2 separate regions of the Homo sapiens genome follow, and region 2 is linked to region 1. The links come from fine-mapping of genetic effects on gene expression. A gene starts in region 1. The other region holds a variant in brackets. All regions are shown on one strand. Distances are from middle to middle.

Region 1 (8,339 bases):
TGAGCAGGTTCCAAGAGAGGAGAGAAGTCAGGCAGCAGAAGCAGACAGCCCTGAGTGACAGAGTTGTGGGGGCCCTTCCCGGGCCCCTGAGGGCACAGGCTATATAGATGGCCCAGTCCTGCACCTGAGAGGGCAGCCACAGCTGCACCCTGGGAGTTCCCACCCCGCCAACTTGGGAGGGGCAGGGATCCCACTTGTCCCCAGCTCCTGCCTGCTCTGCGGAGCAGGAGGCCCAGGTCTGCAGCCACTGGTCGGGCGGCTGCAGCTGCACCTGGGAGGGCAGATCCTGCCTGCTCCCGCCACTCCCACCAAGAGCACAGGGAGCCCCAGATCCACAGCTGCAGTTTGGGTGGCTGCTGCCTGCTCTGTAAAGCAGGAGGCCTGGGTCTGCAGCTGCAGTTTGGGTGACTGCAGCAGTACCCCGGGAGCTCCTGCCCCAACTCAGAAGGGGCAGGGCTCCCACTGGCTCCATGGAGCATGCAGCCCCAGCTGTGCCTCCTTGCTGTAGCTGGCATGATGGCAGCAGCTGCTGCCATCACTGGGACCACAGGTGCATACCACCATGCCCAGCTAATTTTTTTATTTGTAGAGACAAGATTTTGCTGTTTTCCAGGTCGGCCTCAAACTCCTGGGCTCAAGTGATCCTCCTGCCTTGGCCTCCCAAAGTGCTGGCCTCTCAAAGGAGGGCAAAGTGGATTTAGGCCGAGCCACGGAGCCCACCCTAAATCTGTCTCTTTTTAAAAATGGCAAATTTTGTGTTATGTATATTTTACTATAATAAAAATTATGGAAGGATTTTTTCTTTTAAAGTTAGTGGTTAGAAACAATCTTTTACTAAGCTCACAAATTCTGGGGGTCAGAAATTTGGGCAGGGCACAGTGGGGATGTCTTGTCTCTGTTCCATGATGGCTGGGTCTCAGCTGAGCAAGCTCAAACGCTGGGAGTGAATCAATGTCTGGGAGCTGGATTCACCTAAAGGCACTTTCATTTACAGGTCTGGGTTAACTCAAAAACTACAACTGTCTACTGGAGTACCACATGTGGTCTCTCCATGTGGTTTGGTTTCCTAACAGCATAGTGGACTCAGGGTAGCTGATATGGTTTGGGATCTGTGTCCTTACCCAAATCTCACCTTGAATTGTCATAATCCCCATGTGTTATAGGAGGGACCCAGTGAGAGGTAATTGAATCATACGGGCGGCGTTTTCCTGTGCTTTTCTCATGATAATAAGTCTCATGAGATCTGATGGTTTTATTAATTAATTAATTTATTTTTATTTATTTTTATTTTTTGAGACAGAGTCTTGATCTGTTGCCCGGGCTGGAGTGCAGCAGTGCGATTTCGGCTTACTGCAACCTCCGCCTCCTGGGTTCAGGTGATTCTCCTGCCTCAGCCTCCCAAGTAGCTGAGACTACAGGTATGCACCACCATGCCCGGCTAAGTTTTATATTTTTAGTAGAGACGGGGTTTCACTACGTTGGCCAGGCTTGTCTAGAACTCCTGACCTTGTAATCCAACTGCCTCGGCCTCCCAAAGTGCTGGGATTACAGGCATGAGCCACTGCACCCAGCTGAGATCTGATAGTTTTATAAAGGGGAGTTCCCCTGCACATGCTCTCTTCTTGCCTGCTGCCATGTAAGACATGCCTTTCTTCTCTTTTGCCTTCTGCAGTGATTGTGAGGCTTCCCCAGCCAACTGAAACTGTGAGTCCATTAAACCTCTTTTTCTTTATAAATTATCATGTCTTGGGTATGTCTTTATTAGCAGTGTGAGAACAGACTACCACAGTAGCCAAACTTTATATGGTGGCTCAGGGCTCCAAACATTAGTGTTCTACTGGTGGGCAGTGGGGGAGTGGGTGGGGGGTGTGGAAGTGGAGAAGTGGGTGTGGTGGTGGGGAAGCAAAACCTGCATCCTATTTATGACTTAACCTTGGAAACATCATTTCTGTCATACTTTATTGGCCAAAGCAGACCTACAACTACCCAGATTCAAGTTGGTGGGGGCGGGGGGGGGTGCTTTGATGGAGGAATATCAAGATCACGTTGCAGACAAACATGTGTGAAGGACTCTATTGTTGCAGCCATCCTTGAAAAATATTATCTGCCATATGGTCTTTCTAAAATGGGTTAAAAGCAAAGAAACCACAGAAGAATCATCTTACAGAAACAGAGCAGGGGGAGAAGTCTTAATGGACAAATAATCTGCCTACACAAACAATGAGCAATTTACTTCTGGGAGGATCTCTCCTCAGGCAGGGAGATTGCCAAGCGCATTAGGCTGAGTAGAGTTGGTGACAGAACTCATAGTTGTATCAGCTCCTCTGTGTGTGATCTGAGTAGGAAAGTATTTGACTACTGGGGACTCTAGCTTCATCTTTAAAACAAAGTGTTGTGAGAACCAAGTAAAATACTGTATAGAAAGATAAATGTGTTGCAAAAAGGTCCCCGAATAGAGCCCACAGGTGGACACCCCCCGTTTGACAATGCCACTGGGAAAGACCATGTGTACTGCCAGTTTATCCTTGCCACTGTTTCCCCATAGCAGCCACCTTCCTGTTTCTTTTGCTTGCCTCTCTCAGAGGTAGATGCATTGAGGGTAAATGACCAGGACAGGGCCACACAGCCAAGAGATCAAAACCCAGATTTTTCTGGGATGCTAGTTTGAGATTTTCCATTCTACAAACGTCCAGCCACTCACGAGTTCTAACAGATGACTGATCTTAGCTGAGAAGCATGACATAGATACAAGGGAGTCACACTGCCCGGGTTCATATCCCAGCTGCACCGCTTACTAGCAGTGTGACCTTTGGAAGGATCGCTGTTTTCCCAGGTGTAAAACGGAAATAAGACCTCCCACAAAGGGGTAAGTAATCACGTGATACGGCACTCAAAACAGCGCCTTCAACATAAGTAAGCCCTTTGTGTTTGCCAAGACTAAATCACTACTGCATAGTTAGTATATAATTGGTGCTAAATGTTTTTTTCTCACTTTTTTTTTTGGTGCTAAATGTTTTAAGGTGAGAAAGTAACATTTAGGGATGTAATGAGATGTAATGGTGGGATCTCCGTGAAACGACAAATTCATTTTGGAGAAAGCTTTTTAAAAAACGCAAACCACAAACCTCTGCCATTTGTCAGCTTGAAGTCTACGGAACTGCAAGCAAAATAAAGATTGGTGAAACTTTGCTTCTGACTGACCCCTACAGTCCCAAATATTTTCTTGGCCTTTACAAAGCCCGCAGGCATCGTCACATGCAGTCCTGAAAAGCCTTTTCTCTATACTTCACACAGCCCAGACCAGCCCACGTGGATTCCTCGCCCGGCTGCTTCCGCTTCCATTTTGTCCCCTCCTATTTCTCATTCGGCGCCTCAGAATGACGTCTGAAATGAGCGCCGACGCTGCCCAAACAGGAGCCTGCGCATGCGCTCTGCCCTGGCAGCGGCCCTGTGCAGATCCCTGAGCGTGTGGCAGCAGTGCGGTCGTGGTCCCTCCCTATGCAGCCTGGTTTCTAGCGTGACACGCCCTTGACTTGAGGACCATGAACCGCAGCCGCCAGGTGACGTGCGTGGCCTGGGTCCGCTGCGGCGTGGCCAAAGAGACACCAGACAAGGTGAGGCCTGGTCGCTGGGAGACAAGGGGAGCAGCGTCTTTACGGCACTGGGGGTCCGCCCAGCTGGGGGAACGTGGACCCGGAACTCGGGGCGTTGGCTGGTGCGACTGGCTGGGGTGAGGGCGGCTTTGCCCGGATTGTCGCGACTAGAGCTGCAGTTCAGAAGGTCTGGTTCGCCTGAGCCTGGAGAGTCAAGGGCCGCGCCTTCTCACTGTTCCCACCCTCAAGCCCAACCCCACTCCCAAATTCGCACGCACATGGACTTAGCGGGCCGGAAAGGGGTGGGCTGCTGTTTTTGGTGGGTAATACCCCAAAAGGCTTTTTGACAACACCACTAGCTTCACTAGCACCCAAGTGCATTTTCAAGCATAACTGGGAAGAGAGCATGAAAACTCCACTTTCCACTCTTGTGCTCCGTGTCTGAAGGAGTGAGGATGAATGTGGTGTAGAAAAACTGGTGTGGAGGCTAAGATGTCGTGAGGCTGGGAGATGAATAGGGAATTTCTTGCAGTAATCCAAGTGAGATGTTGATGGTAGCAGGGAGGATGAGAGGTAAATGTCTAACACATGAAAAACCTACAAGAGTTGGAGACTGAGACTGTAGCAGAGGTGACGATTACTTAAGTAATTTCCTCATTGGATACTAAGTGCTTTCTGTAGGCCAGGCATTGTTCAGGGTCCTGGGATAGGCATGAACAAAATAGAAAAAGTCCCGCCGGGCGCGGTGGCTCACGCCTGTAATCCCAGCACTTTGGGAGGCCAAGGCGGGCGGATCACGAGGTCAGGAGATCGAGAGCATCCTGGCTAACACGGTGAAACCCCGTCTCTACTAAAAATACAAAAAATTAGCCGGGTGTGGTGGTGGATGCCTGTAGTCCCAGCTACTCGGGAGGCTGAGGCAGGAGAATGGCGTGAACCCGGGAGGCGGAGCTTGCAGTGAGCCGAGATCGCACAGCTGCACTCCAGCCTGGGCGGGCAACAGAGTGAGACTCCGTCTCAAAAAAAAAAAAAAAAAAAAAAAAAAAAAAATAGAAAAAGACCCTGCCTTTATGGAGTCGACATGTGCACATATAGTATGTCAGTGGGAGTTAAGTTCTACCAAACAGTAAAAGGGGTTGATTTGAATGTACTTGACCAAGATAATGATGATGGTGATAGGAATGTGATTGGCTTGGACATGGAGTTAACAGGAATGACGGATTGGAGTAGTCCCAGTAGTTGTAAATTCCACCTGGGCACAGACTGTTTTATTTACTGTTTCTCCAGGGTTTGGTTGATGGTAGGCACTCGGTGTTACATTTATAGAATAGGGACAGAAAATTATTTCATATAAAAATTGTTGGAGGAAACAGTTATTAAAAAGAGACATATAGCCTTTCAAATACTTGAAGACTGATTTCCAAATGAATCTACACATTGAAAATCTCACACTTGGGGAGGTTCAAAAAATACTGATGTTTATGTCCCACTCCCAAGTATTGTGTTGTAATTAGCCTGTAGTGTAGCCTAAATTATTTAAGATTCCCTAGGTGATTCTGATGTACAGATAAGTCTGGGAACCACTATTTGAAGAGTTTATAGGAAAAAGAGATTGAATTTATGAAATCCTAGAAAGGAAAACTTGGACCAAATGAGAGAAATTGGACAAGCCAGTTGCGGTGGCTCGTGCCTGTAATCCTAGTCATTCAGGAAGCTGAGGTGGGAGGATCGCATGAGCCCAGGAGTTCACAGCTGCAGGGAGCTGTGACCATGCCACATCTCTTAAAAATTAAAATTAAGGCCGGGCACGGTGGCTCACGCCTGTAATCCCAGCACTTTGGGAGCCCGAGGCAGGTGGATCATTTGAGGTCAGGAGTTCCAGACCAGCCCGGCCAACATGGTGAAACCCAGTCTCTACCAAAATACAAAAATTAGCTGGGCGTGGTGGCGCGTGCCTGTAATCCCAGCTGCTCAAGAGGCTAAGGCAGGAGAATCGCTTGAACCCGGGAGGTGGAGGTTGCAGTGAGCCGAGATGGCGCCATTGCTCTTCAGCCTGGGCAACAGAGCGAGACTCCGTCTCAAAAAAAAAAAAAAAAAAAAAAAAAAAAAAGAACAGAGGACTCATGTAAGGGTGATTTGTTAAGGAATGCCCACAGGGAAGAGAGGGAGAGGTGCCCTAGACAGAGTCAGAGATGGTTGGAAGAAAACCAGACGAGTACCACACAGCCACTTTACCAAAACCAGTCTTTGGAGTTTTAAGACTAAGAGGTGGAGTAGAATGAGCATGATTTTTGAAGTTTCAGGTAGCGAGAGATCTTATTTGTAAGAATCTATAAAATCTATATTTTTTAATATAGAGTCTGGATTGATGTTTGATTCTTATCTTGATGACATTGCTTGGCGTTACATTTTACATTTGTTTGCAAACTACTTTTTAATTCAAATAATTTGATGATTTCCTTACACATATTGTAATGAAATCTTTGCTCTCTTACAGGTAGAGCTGAGTAAAGAAGAAGTAAAACGCCTCATTGCTGAGGCAAAGGAGAAATTGCAGTAAGTTTAGGACCAGATGAAATCTATATCTTAAATGATGATGACCATGTGGTCTTGTTATTAGAAGGTAGCATTTGGGTGATTCTCTTTTTCTTTCTGTGCTCATAGAGAAGAAGGTGGTGGCAGTGATGAAGAGGAGACAGGCAGTCCTTCAGAAGATGGCATGCAGAGTGCACGCACCCAGGCACGCCCAAGAGAGCCCCTGGAGGATGGTGACCCAGAGGATGACAGGACGCTTGATGATGATGAGCTGGCTGAGTACGACTTAGATAAATATGATGAGGAAGGTGACCCAGGTTAGTTTATCCACTTCTGATGGTTTGTAATTACAAGCTCAATATGTTGGATCATGTTTGTGGTGTTCCAAAGCTTTACTCTTAGATTTTATTGTTCTTGACATCAGTAAGATAATCTGGTTGAAGACTTGGGCAGACAGCATGATTCCTAAACTAGTTTAGAAGATAAACTCTAACCCACTAAGATACAAATCTAGGATCTAAAAAAAAAAGTACTGTGTATTTTATTGCATATATCAGGTTTAATAATCTGTAACCCACTTGTGAGTTTTTGTATGCAGTTATAATGCTATGGTGTGCTTGAACTTATATCCATATACCTTTTCCTCAACTGCAGTCAGTCTTCTCACAATACAGTAGTCCCCCCTTATCCACGGTTTTGCTTTCTTCGGTTTCAGTTAGCCACAGTCAACTGCAGTCTGAAAATAAGTGAGTAAAGTACAGTACTTTGGGAGAGATGACTTTCACATAACTTTTATTACAGTATATTATCATTATTTGATTCCTAGGTACATATAGGAAAAACATAATGTATATAAGGTTTGGTACTATCTGTGGTTTTAGACCACCACTGAGGGTCTTGGAATGTATCCCCCGTGGATAAGGGGGGACTACTGCCTGCATTTTGAGATGCTGTTCTTGGAGATAATTAGAAAAAGAGGCCAGGTGCACGTGACTCACGCCTGTAATCCCAGCACTTTGGGAGGCCGAGGCAGGTGGATCACTTGAGGTCAGGAGTTCGAGACCAGCCGGGCCAACATGGCGAAACCCTGTCTCTACTAAAAATACAAAACTTAGCCAGGCGTGGTGGCGCACATCTGTAATCCCAGCTACTCAGGAGGCTGAGGCAGGAGAATCACTTGAACCTGGGAGGCGGAGGTTGCAGTGAGCCAAGATCGTGCCACTGCACTCCAGCCTGGGTGACACAGTGGGACTCCATCTCAAAAAGAAAAAATCATGGGTGGGAAGAGAAAAAGGAAATAGAACAGAAGACAGATTAGAAGTAGAAGTTTGTATAGAAAGCCTCGTGGGGAATAAAGTGAGCTGAGATGACAACTACCTATATTGCTCTTCTGGGGAAAGTAGGTATAACGATAAATGGAAAAGGAGCTGACAAAGCTCGCTTTGTTTCTTTTGGAATGTGCTACCCTAGGTGGCACTAACTCCTAATCTTGGGGTTTGAGAAATAGGCATTTGGCACACTGAGCAGGTTAAGTAAGTTATTTACTTAACTTGTAAATCCCAGTTAGTCTGCATATTTGGGAGCTGAAGGGACTCCTGACAGCTAGAATCAGCTACTCCCAAGTTATAAAATCAAAATGTAGATGATCGGAAACAAAAATTAACTCTTAATACAAATGTTATCTGCAACAAAGTAAAATCACAACTACCTGTTAAATTGATGGTTAAAATATTACATAAGACATAGCAGAGCTGAGCGTGGTGGCTCATGTCTAATCCCAGCTACTTGGGAGGCTGAGGCAGCAGGATCGCTCAAGCCCAGGAGTTCAAGGCTGCAGTGAACTATGATCACACTGTATTCCATCCTGGATGACAGACACCATGTCTAAATAATAAAAAAGTTTAAAAAAGTTATAATCAGGCACTTAAAAATATCAGTATCTGTTAGAATATCGTTGAAATGCTGAGTAAAATAATATACTTTTTTTTGTGTGTGTGAGACGGAGTCTTGCTCTGTTGCCCAGGCTAGAGTGCTGTAGTGCAATCTCGGCTCACTGCAGCCTCTGACTCCCTAATTCAAGCAATTTTCCTGCCTTAGCCTCCCGAATGCTGGGATTACAGGCACATGCCACCACGCCCAGCTAATTTTCGTGTTTTTAGTAGAGACAGGGTTTCACCATGTTGGCCGGGATGGTCTCAATCTCCTGACCTC
Region 2 (8,339 bases), 25 kb after region 1:
AACAGGGACAATTTGACTTCCTCTTTTCCTAATTGAATACCCTTTATTTCTTTCTCCTGCCTGATTGCCCTGGCCAGAACTTCCAACACTGTGTTGAATAGGAGTGGTGAGAGAGGGCATCCCTGTCTTGTGCCAGTTTTCAAAGGGAGTGCTTCCAGTTTTTGCCCATTCAGTATGATATTGGCTGTGGGTTTGTCATAAATAGCTCTTATTATTTTGAGATATGTCTCATCAATACCGAATTTATTGAGAGTTTTAGCATGAAGGGCTGTTGAATTTTGTCAAAGGCCTTTTCTGCATCTATTGAGATAATCATGTGGTTTTTGTCTTTGGTTCTGTTTATATGCTGGATTACGTTTATTGATGTGTGTATGTATGTTGAACCAGCCTTGCATCCCAGGGATGAAGCCCACTTGATCATGGTGGATAAGCTTTTTGATGTGCTGCTGGATTCGGTTTGCCAGTATTTTATTGAGGATTTTTGCATCGATGTTCTTCAGGGATATTGGTCTAAAATTCTGTTTTTTCGTTGTGTCTCTGCCGGGCTTTGGTATCAGGGTGATGCTGGCCTCATAAAATGAGTTAGGGGGGAAAGAGTTTTTTAAAAACAGCTTTCTCAAAAGATGTGGACAATTTTAGTAAGATTCATGAAGTAATGATTCTGAGATACTTAATCTCAATTCTGCACGATTAGTAGAGGTGCATGCTGTTCTAGCCAGGCAGCCTGAAGCCTGACTTATTTTTACAATGATCATTCCAGTTGTACTTGAATGTTGTGTTGTACTTCGGCTCTCACTCTTCAGGTACGCAACTTCCAGAGATTATTTGCTAACAAATGGTCATATATATTAGAATCCCAAATATTTAGGGAAGTGAGAGGTTAAAGTAGATGAAATGGTTCACCTGCTTCCCTCTCATCTCAAAAGAAGAGCCAAGCCTTCTCTTCCCTGGCCTAGCAGTCAGACTGCCTCAGCCGTCCTTTCTTTATCCTTTTTTCTTGTACTGGCTGTTGCCCTTGGCCTGTATACAGGCTCAGGTTTCTGTCTCCCATTTTTGGCTCTGTATCTGTCTCTTAATTCCTTCATTTCTTCTTTCTTTCTTGACAGTGTAACAATGCACTCTAATCTGCCTTTCATTCCTAAGTTCCTTATCTGATTGAATTTCTCTGCCACACTGGTCGATTTGACTGTTGGTCACGCCTTGGTTCCTTGACACTCTTCCCTATCCCTTCTTCCCTCTCTGACTCACTTCTGTGGATGCTTCCTCAGCCTGCAACTTGAGTAGCCATGCTCACCAGGCCTGTGTTCACGTGGATGTAACTATGGCCTCTTTTCTTCTACTGCTCTAGCCCCATTCCAGACCATTCACCACAGCTTCATACTCATATCCAGTAGACATGTCAACTGAATTAGCCCATGTGAGTGCAAACTCAGGTCGTCCAAAAGTAAATGATTTCTGTCCATGTTAATTTTTCATAAGTTCCACCAGTAAGTCATATAGCTGATTTTCACTATGACTTAGACTTTTTACCCATTGTTAGATTTTGTGACGTAGCATGACCTTGCCCATCTTTTACTCTTTCTAGGCCAGTACAGATGACGGCTTTGTATATAATTTGGATGCACGTTCAGATAAGCCAATTTTTACACTTAATGCACACAATGATGAAATCTCTGGTGAGCAAGAGTAATGCTTCTTTCATTTTTCTTAACTTATGATGAAGTAAATCTGTATTTCAAAGCGAAAGTGTCTAAACTTATCTTCCTTTAGGTCTTGATCTTAGCAGTCAAATCAAGGGCTGTCTCGTGACTGCTTCAGCTGACAAATACGTGAAGATCTGGGACATCTTAGGAGATAGGCCAAGTCTAGTTCATTCTAGGGACATGAAAATGGTAAGAATCTCCCTGGGTATCTGTTTTTTATTTATTCTGTTTCTGACCTTGTCTTTTTCTGGAACTTGTGTTGCGTGTTTTTCTGTTGGAACTATTGCATTAACAAATATGGATGTGTTGGGGAAGTGAATTTTGAGTTTAGTCAAATTTGGTGGGATTTTATGACTTAGAACGCTTTGTGGGGAATTCAGTGACTGGTTCTTTTCCAACTCACATGATTAACAGTTGCTTGGTAAGGCTGGGGAGAGGGTTTTCTAGGACACAAGTGAAATGGCTGCTTTTTTTTTTTTTTTTTAAAACCCTGAAATCAAGACCATCCCAAGAAATCTTGAACCTCAGGGCACCGTAGCTATTAGGGTCAGTTTATGTATCTTTATCTCTTTGCATAACTAGTTCTGACTACACTGAAACAAATTACTATATAGTAGGAAAAATTTAGAAATAACCAGATTCACTCAAGAAATATTTACTGAGCACCTACTGTATGCCAACCACTGAGTTATATAAGTTAGACTGCAGACACAGTAACACTGCACAGCTGTTGAAAATTGTGTATGAATAAATATATATAAATATAATGGAAAAACAGGTTACAGAAGCAATTTTTGTAGTACCATCTCATGCTTATTTTTAAGTGCATAATTGCCTAAATGCTTACATTTAACTCTAGTAGATTATATCCCAGAACATAAACCGTGGTTACCTCCCTGAGAGATTTTCATATATTTTTCTTGTTCATATTTTCTATAACAAATATATATTACCTATTAATAAAAATGTAAAAAAGAAAACAAAGTTTAAAAATGATTTAAACTGGCATCATTGTTATTGTTTAAAAGGACAGCTAAAGTTTCTGGAAATACATGGCACATTAGGTTTGTTAGGAAATCCCTAAGAGACAGAGTGATAACGAAGATGAGTGGCCTGAGTGGTCAGAAGTTGCAGATATCATTGTGGAAGAACCAGCATGCTGCGCTTGTCTGGCTTCATATTGTAGTACTAGCCCTTCTGACTTGACTCTGAGCTACCTTTGCAGTAGGCTTGAAAGTGAGAATCATAAGTTGGTTTTGAATAACCATTTAAATCATAGATTCTTAGAGACAACAGTGAGGATCTAGATATTAGCGCTTTCTGAAGAGATTGAAATCACCATCTTCCTGTTCTCTCTCTAGGGAGTTCTCTTCTGTTCTTCATGTTGCCCTGATTTGCCATTTATTTATGCCTTTGGAGGTCAAAAAGAAGGGCTTCGGGTCTGGGATATAAGCACAGTCTCTTCAGGTAAGGATTTTTAGTTCTCTGCACACCTCCCCCTGCCCCTGTAAAAAAAAAAAAAAAAAAAAAGACAGGGTCTCACCATGTTGCCCAGGCTGGTCTCAAACTCCTGGCCTCAAGCAATCCTTGGTCCTCAGCCTTCTGTATAGCTGGGATTACAGGTGTGAGCCATCATGCTGGCCTCTCCTCTTTCTGAATGAGTTCTGTAAGGACTGACACAGAATGTGTGACTTGAATTGTTTCTCAGCATTTTGGCTAAGACCAAGTGCAGAATGTGTGTCCTGACTACATCAGGAAGATAGCAAAAGTAGTGTAGTCTTTTTAGGAAAGAGACAAGATCAGATGTAATTGGTAATGTTTGTTCATGTTCACAAATAAGTTTGTCTTCACACTTTTAAGTGTAGATCATTTAAGGCCGAGACCAGCTCGGTTGGGGAGACCCTAACCCAGTGGCGCTAGAGGAATTAAAGACACACACACAGAAATATAGAGATGTGAAGTGGGAAATCAGGGGTCTCACAGCCTTCAGAGCAGACAGCCCCGAACAGAGATTTACCCACATATTTATTAACACCAAACTAGTCTTTAGCATTGTTTCTATAGGTATTAAATTAACTAAAAGTATCCCTTATGGGAAACGAGGGATAGGCCGGATTAAAGGAATGGGTTAGGCTAGTTAACTGCAGCAGGAACATGCCCTTAAGACACAGATCGAGATCGCTCATGCTATTGTTTGTGGCTTAAGAATGCCTTTAAGCAGTTTTCCACCTTGGGCAGGCCAGGCGTTCCTTGCCCTCATTCGTAAACCCACAACCTTCCAGCTTGGGCGTTAGGGCCATTATGAACATGTTACGGTGCTGAAGAGATTTTGTTTATGGCCAGATTTTGGGGGGCTTGTTCCCAGCAATTTAACAAATACATATCTTAAAATTGAAAGATCTTTGGGGAAAGCTGGAAAGAAATATAGCATGGTCTCAACAAACAGCCCTCTCCCCCACAGTTACCAGTGTGAATAAATCCACCGTTTGCTCAACTATAAAATTCTACAAAATCCAACTTTCCGGAAGGGGCCACTCCTCTCCCTTCAGGGGATCCTGGCTGCTTATTTATTACTTTGAGGTAGTCTGGTGCGTTCTACAAACACAGAGATAATATATATATCTCCCCACTGTATGATTCCTGCATCCTCCCTCCCATGCAAAACAAGGATCCTGAGATTTTTCTCTGGGTTATTCTGATGTGTGTGAGTCCTAAGTCCGAAAAGTTCTGTGCCGGTTATGATCAGAGAAAAGTGAAAGAAAAAAATAGGAAGCAATCAGAAGTAGAATAAGGCCAGGAGAGGGTCACTTATAAGGAATGGGACATTTGTTACCAAGGCGGATCAGATAAATCCAAGACATGGCAAAGAAAGTAAAGTACAAAAATAAATTGGACCATTTAAAAAAATAATTCACTTCATTCAGAACATTAACTTGGACTTCTGAGTTGGTTACTCACTTTACCATTTATAAAGTACTAAGTGCACAATTCTGCATTTTAGTGTCTTTTTATATTCTGACTTAATTTCCTGATCTGTTAGTTTCTTACCTGTTTATTTGTATTTTAGTAAAT[G/A]AAGCATTTGGAAGACGAGAGAGGCTTGTTCTTGGGAGTGCAAGAAATTCATCTATTAGTGGCCCTTTTGGCAGCAGGAGCTCAGATACACCCATGGAGTCTTAATGAAGATCATCTAATTTCCTGCTTACCTTAACTGGGAATTTTAAAAAGTTGGCCTAAAAATGTTCCATGCGTGGCAGCAACCATGCAGAGTGACTGAAACACAATTCATTTCTGACTGACATTCCTTTCTGCAACTGCGGTGGCACCACAAATATCCGGTCTTTGTGCTTGCTCTTCAGATGGATGGTTTGTAAGGCTCTTGTTGCATTTCTTAAAAAAGAGTAATAAAAAGGATTTTTAAAAAGTAATTCCTTAAACATACCATCTGTCACAGTTAATCTAGATTTGTAAATAGGTAGTAATTTATAGAATTTTTAAAGCGTAAAATCCGGTAATATTAAAAGATAGGTAAACCTAGGCCTGGAAAGGCTGTTATTTGGCTAAAATTGCACAGGAGGCCATGAACAGAGGCAAGTGCCCCAGAGACTCCACTTTCATTCCTAACTGTTCTCAAATTAATGCTCATGATTGAGTATTCTCAGTGCAACTCGTAGAGTTTGATAAGTAAAAGTTACATGCCCCTGTTTTCCTAGCATGATATTCACTGTTATCAAAGACAAGAGGCAGACCATTCATTCATTCTCAAAACACTGAATGCCATTCTGTGCCTAGTGCTATACAAGGCATGGGAGATTCAGTGTGAATAAGTCTTTGCTCTCCACCTAACAAGGGACAGTTTTAATTATAGATTGTCTTCCTATTAAGTATGAGTTTTAGTAGGCATTAAAAATCGTAATTAGTTTGATAATATGAGACCCAACCCTAACTTGCCAGAAGAGTAATCAGTTCATGAACCATTGATATTTCCTGTATATTTCATGAATGTGACTTCAGTCATTCTAGTGTTAATACTGTGGAATGTCATTGGTGTAGCAACGTGGGTTCACCAAAACACCTTTTTATACAAAAGACAGATGTGTGAATTAAAGAGATTAAAGGATAGAGTATTCTGTTTCTTTGTTTTGATTTGGCTTTTAGGTATTAAAATAAGGCCCAGATCACTAAAAATTAGTAACAGAGGGAGACCTCTAATAGATTTAAAGTCAGTTAATTCTCTCTGAAATTTGATGTTTTCTTCTATAAAGAATAACTCTAAAATAGGCATCTTCCCAGGACTTTCCATTCTCAGGAAAAGACCTAGTTACGTATAAAAAATAACTTCTACTGCTTTATGTAGTCATATAGGTCTGCCTAAAATAAGAATTTGTATTTAATAAATACCAAAATTTTCAAATGGTAAATGGGTTGACACCTCTGTTTCCAACTTGAAAGTGCTAGTGCGATGAATGCTAAGCATGGGGTGTTTTCTGAGCCAAAAGAATGTGCCTCTGAAGTAGCTGGTTAGAGCAGATCTGAGCACCTGGGACCAGAAGAGTGCTGGCCGGGACCTGCAGTTACTGCTAAAAGACAGTGCAGGCAGTGGGTAAGACATCTGAGTAGACAGGCAATAGGGGTAGTCAAGCTGTGGGAACTAGGTAAGATGGGGATTAAAATCCAAGCCCAGATTATAAATGTAAAAGGAGGCTCGATTGTGTCATACTGACTGAGGAAAGGGTTCCACATCACTTCCCACCGTGGGTACATTTTGCACCTAAGTGTGGGTAGATCTGAGCCCAAAGATGTGTGGCTTAGAATGCCTGTCTACCATAGAAAGTGGGGGAATGACAGGTAACATTTTCACCACTGGTAGTTTGTTGGTGACTGGTGTTTTCATTACATAGCACATGGAAATGCCATGGAGCCAAACATATTTGTCAAAGTGAAAACCCGATACTAACTTTTAAACAATTTTACCCAGATGGCTGGGCACGGTGGCTCAAGCCTGTAATCCCAGCACTTTGGGAGGCCAAGGTGGGCAGGTCACCCGAGGTCAGGAGTCCAAGACCAGCCTGGCCAACATGGTAAAACCCCGCCTCAACTAAAAATACAAAAATTAGCTGGGCATGGTGGTGGGTGCCTGTTAATCCCAGCTACTTGGGAGACTGACGCAGGAGGATCAGTTGAACCTGGGAGGCGGAGATTGCAGTGAGCCAAGACCATGCCATTGCACTCCAGCCTGGGCAACAGGAGTGAAACTCCGTCTCAAAAAATAATTACCCAGATGTAGGCAGGTGCCAGCTAATTATATCTGGGAATTCAGATTCTGCAAAACCCACTGTTTATAAAGTAGAAATATCAACTTCTATGATACTATATTCTATGAGCATTATACAGGTAGAACTTAAAGGCCTCAATTTTTCAGGACAACCCAAACTACATCTTATGAAGCTCTTTTCAGTAAAGGTGGTATATGAAATGTATGCTATACTCTTACATACTCTTTTAGGTGGAGGAGGTTTTTGTTTGTTTTTTGTTTTTGTTTTTTTAGACTGAGTGTTGAGTTGCCCAGGCTGGAGTGCAATGGCATGGTCTCGGCTCACTGCAACCTCCGCCTCCCGGGTTCGAATGATTCTCCTGTCTCAGCCTCCTGAGTAGCTGGGATTACAGGCATGTGCCACCATGCCCAGCTAATTTTTGTATTTTTAGTGGAGATGGGGCTTCACCATGTTGGCCAGGCTGGTCTCAAACTCCTGACCTCAGGTGATCGCCTGCCTCGCCTCCCAGAGTGCTGGGATTACAGGCATGAGCCACCGTGCCCAGCCAAGGGAGGTCTTTTCAAAGTAAGTACTTTTAAAACATCCTGTCAGAACAAATAGCCAGATTTTGTTTCAAAAACAACTTGTTTCATACTTCCATTTCTAGATGTGACAGTATAGCTTAAGCAAAAGCTGAACAGGAGGCATGCAACATCTATTTGAAGGCACTGAAGTGCTTCTAAGGCAGCCAGGACTTGAGGGCAAAGATCCTGGGAGAAGGGATGTGCAGAGAATTAACCCCATGTGATGATGCTGATTTTCTTAGGCATTTACCAATTTTTTGTTGTACAAGGTAAGAAAACTGAGAAAAGCAGCAGAGCAAAAACAAAAATTGAACTTGATTTCAAAAAGGAAGGTCTCTAAAAACACTCCAAGCTCTGCCACTGTGACCCCTCAAAGGCTATACCCCAAAAGTTGAGATAAACCAGTAGAGCTAACCTTAGGAATCTGAAGCCCAGCCTTGAGTAAGCTCAGTTTTTGACTGGATTGAGGTGTCCCTGCTCTACTTTGACAGAGGACAGGGTGAATCCTCCCTGGAAGAGGATAATTTCATCCACAGCTTCTATAGTTTTTCATACACAATCTCTAGCATTCCAGCAAAGATTTCTAAGCATACTAAGAAATAGCACCATGAGAAAGATAGACCTGTAATAAATTCACACATTGGACTTATGTTGGACATGAACTTTGAAATAGGCAGGATTGGTAAATGTAAGAAAAAACAAGATTGAATATATCATCAAGGAATTGGAATCTATAAAGAATTAAATGAGAACTCTAGAACTTAAGAGAATTTTATATATGAGACTAACACATTAGAGTT

What was found. PIP is the estimated chance that this variant, and not a neighbour inherited with it, causes the effect.
Region 2: its variant is fine-mapped to the expression of PWP1 in whole blood (INTERVAL, PIP 0.91).

Annotation. Positions count from the first base shown.
Region 1 is chr12:107,682,358-107,690,696 of GRCh38, forward strand. PWP1 (PWP1 homolog, endonuclein) reads left to right here and starts at 3,442. Exons shown (of 15, transcript NM_007062.3): 1 at 3,442-3,614; 2 at 6,091-6,149; 3 at 6,258-6,445. The coding sequence starts at 3,543. RefSeq lists a silencer at 564-821 and enhancers at 3,251-3,510, 3,731-3,780.
Region 2 is chr12:107,707,341-107,715,679 of GRCh38, forward strand. It overlaps PWP1 (PWP1 homolog, endonuclein), which reads left to right. Exons shown (of 15, transcript NM_007062.3): 12 at 1,586-1,676; 13 at 1,771-1,892; 14 at 3,065-3,170; 15 at 4,771-5,822. The coding sequence ends at 4,880. It overlaps LOC124903010 (a long non-coding RNA gene), which reads right to left and starts at 8,062. Exons shown (of 2, transcript XR_007063446.1): 1 at 7,955-8,062; 2 at 5,042-5,090. The variant G/A (reference allele first, on the strand shown) is at 4,776.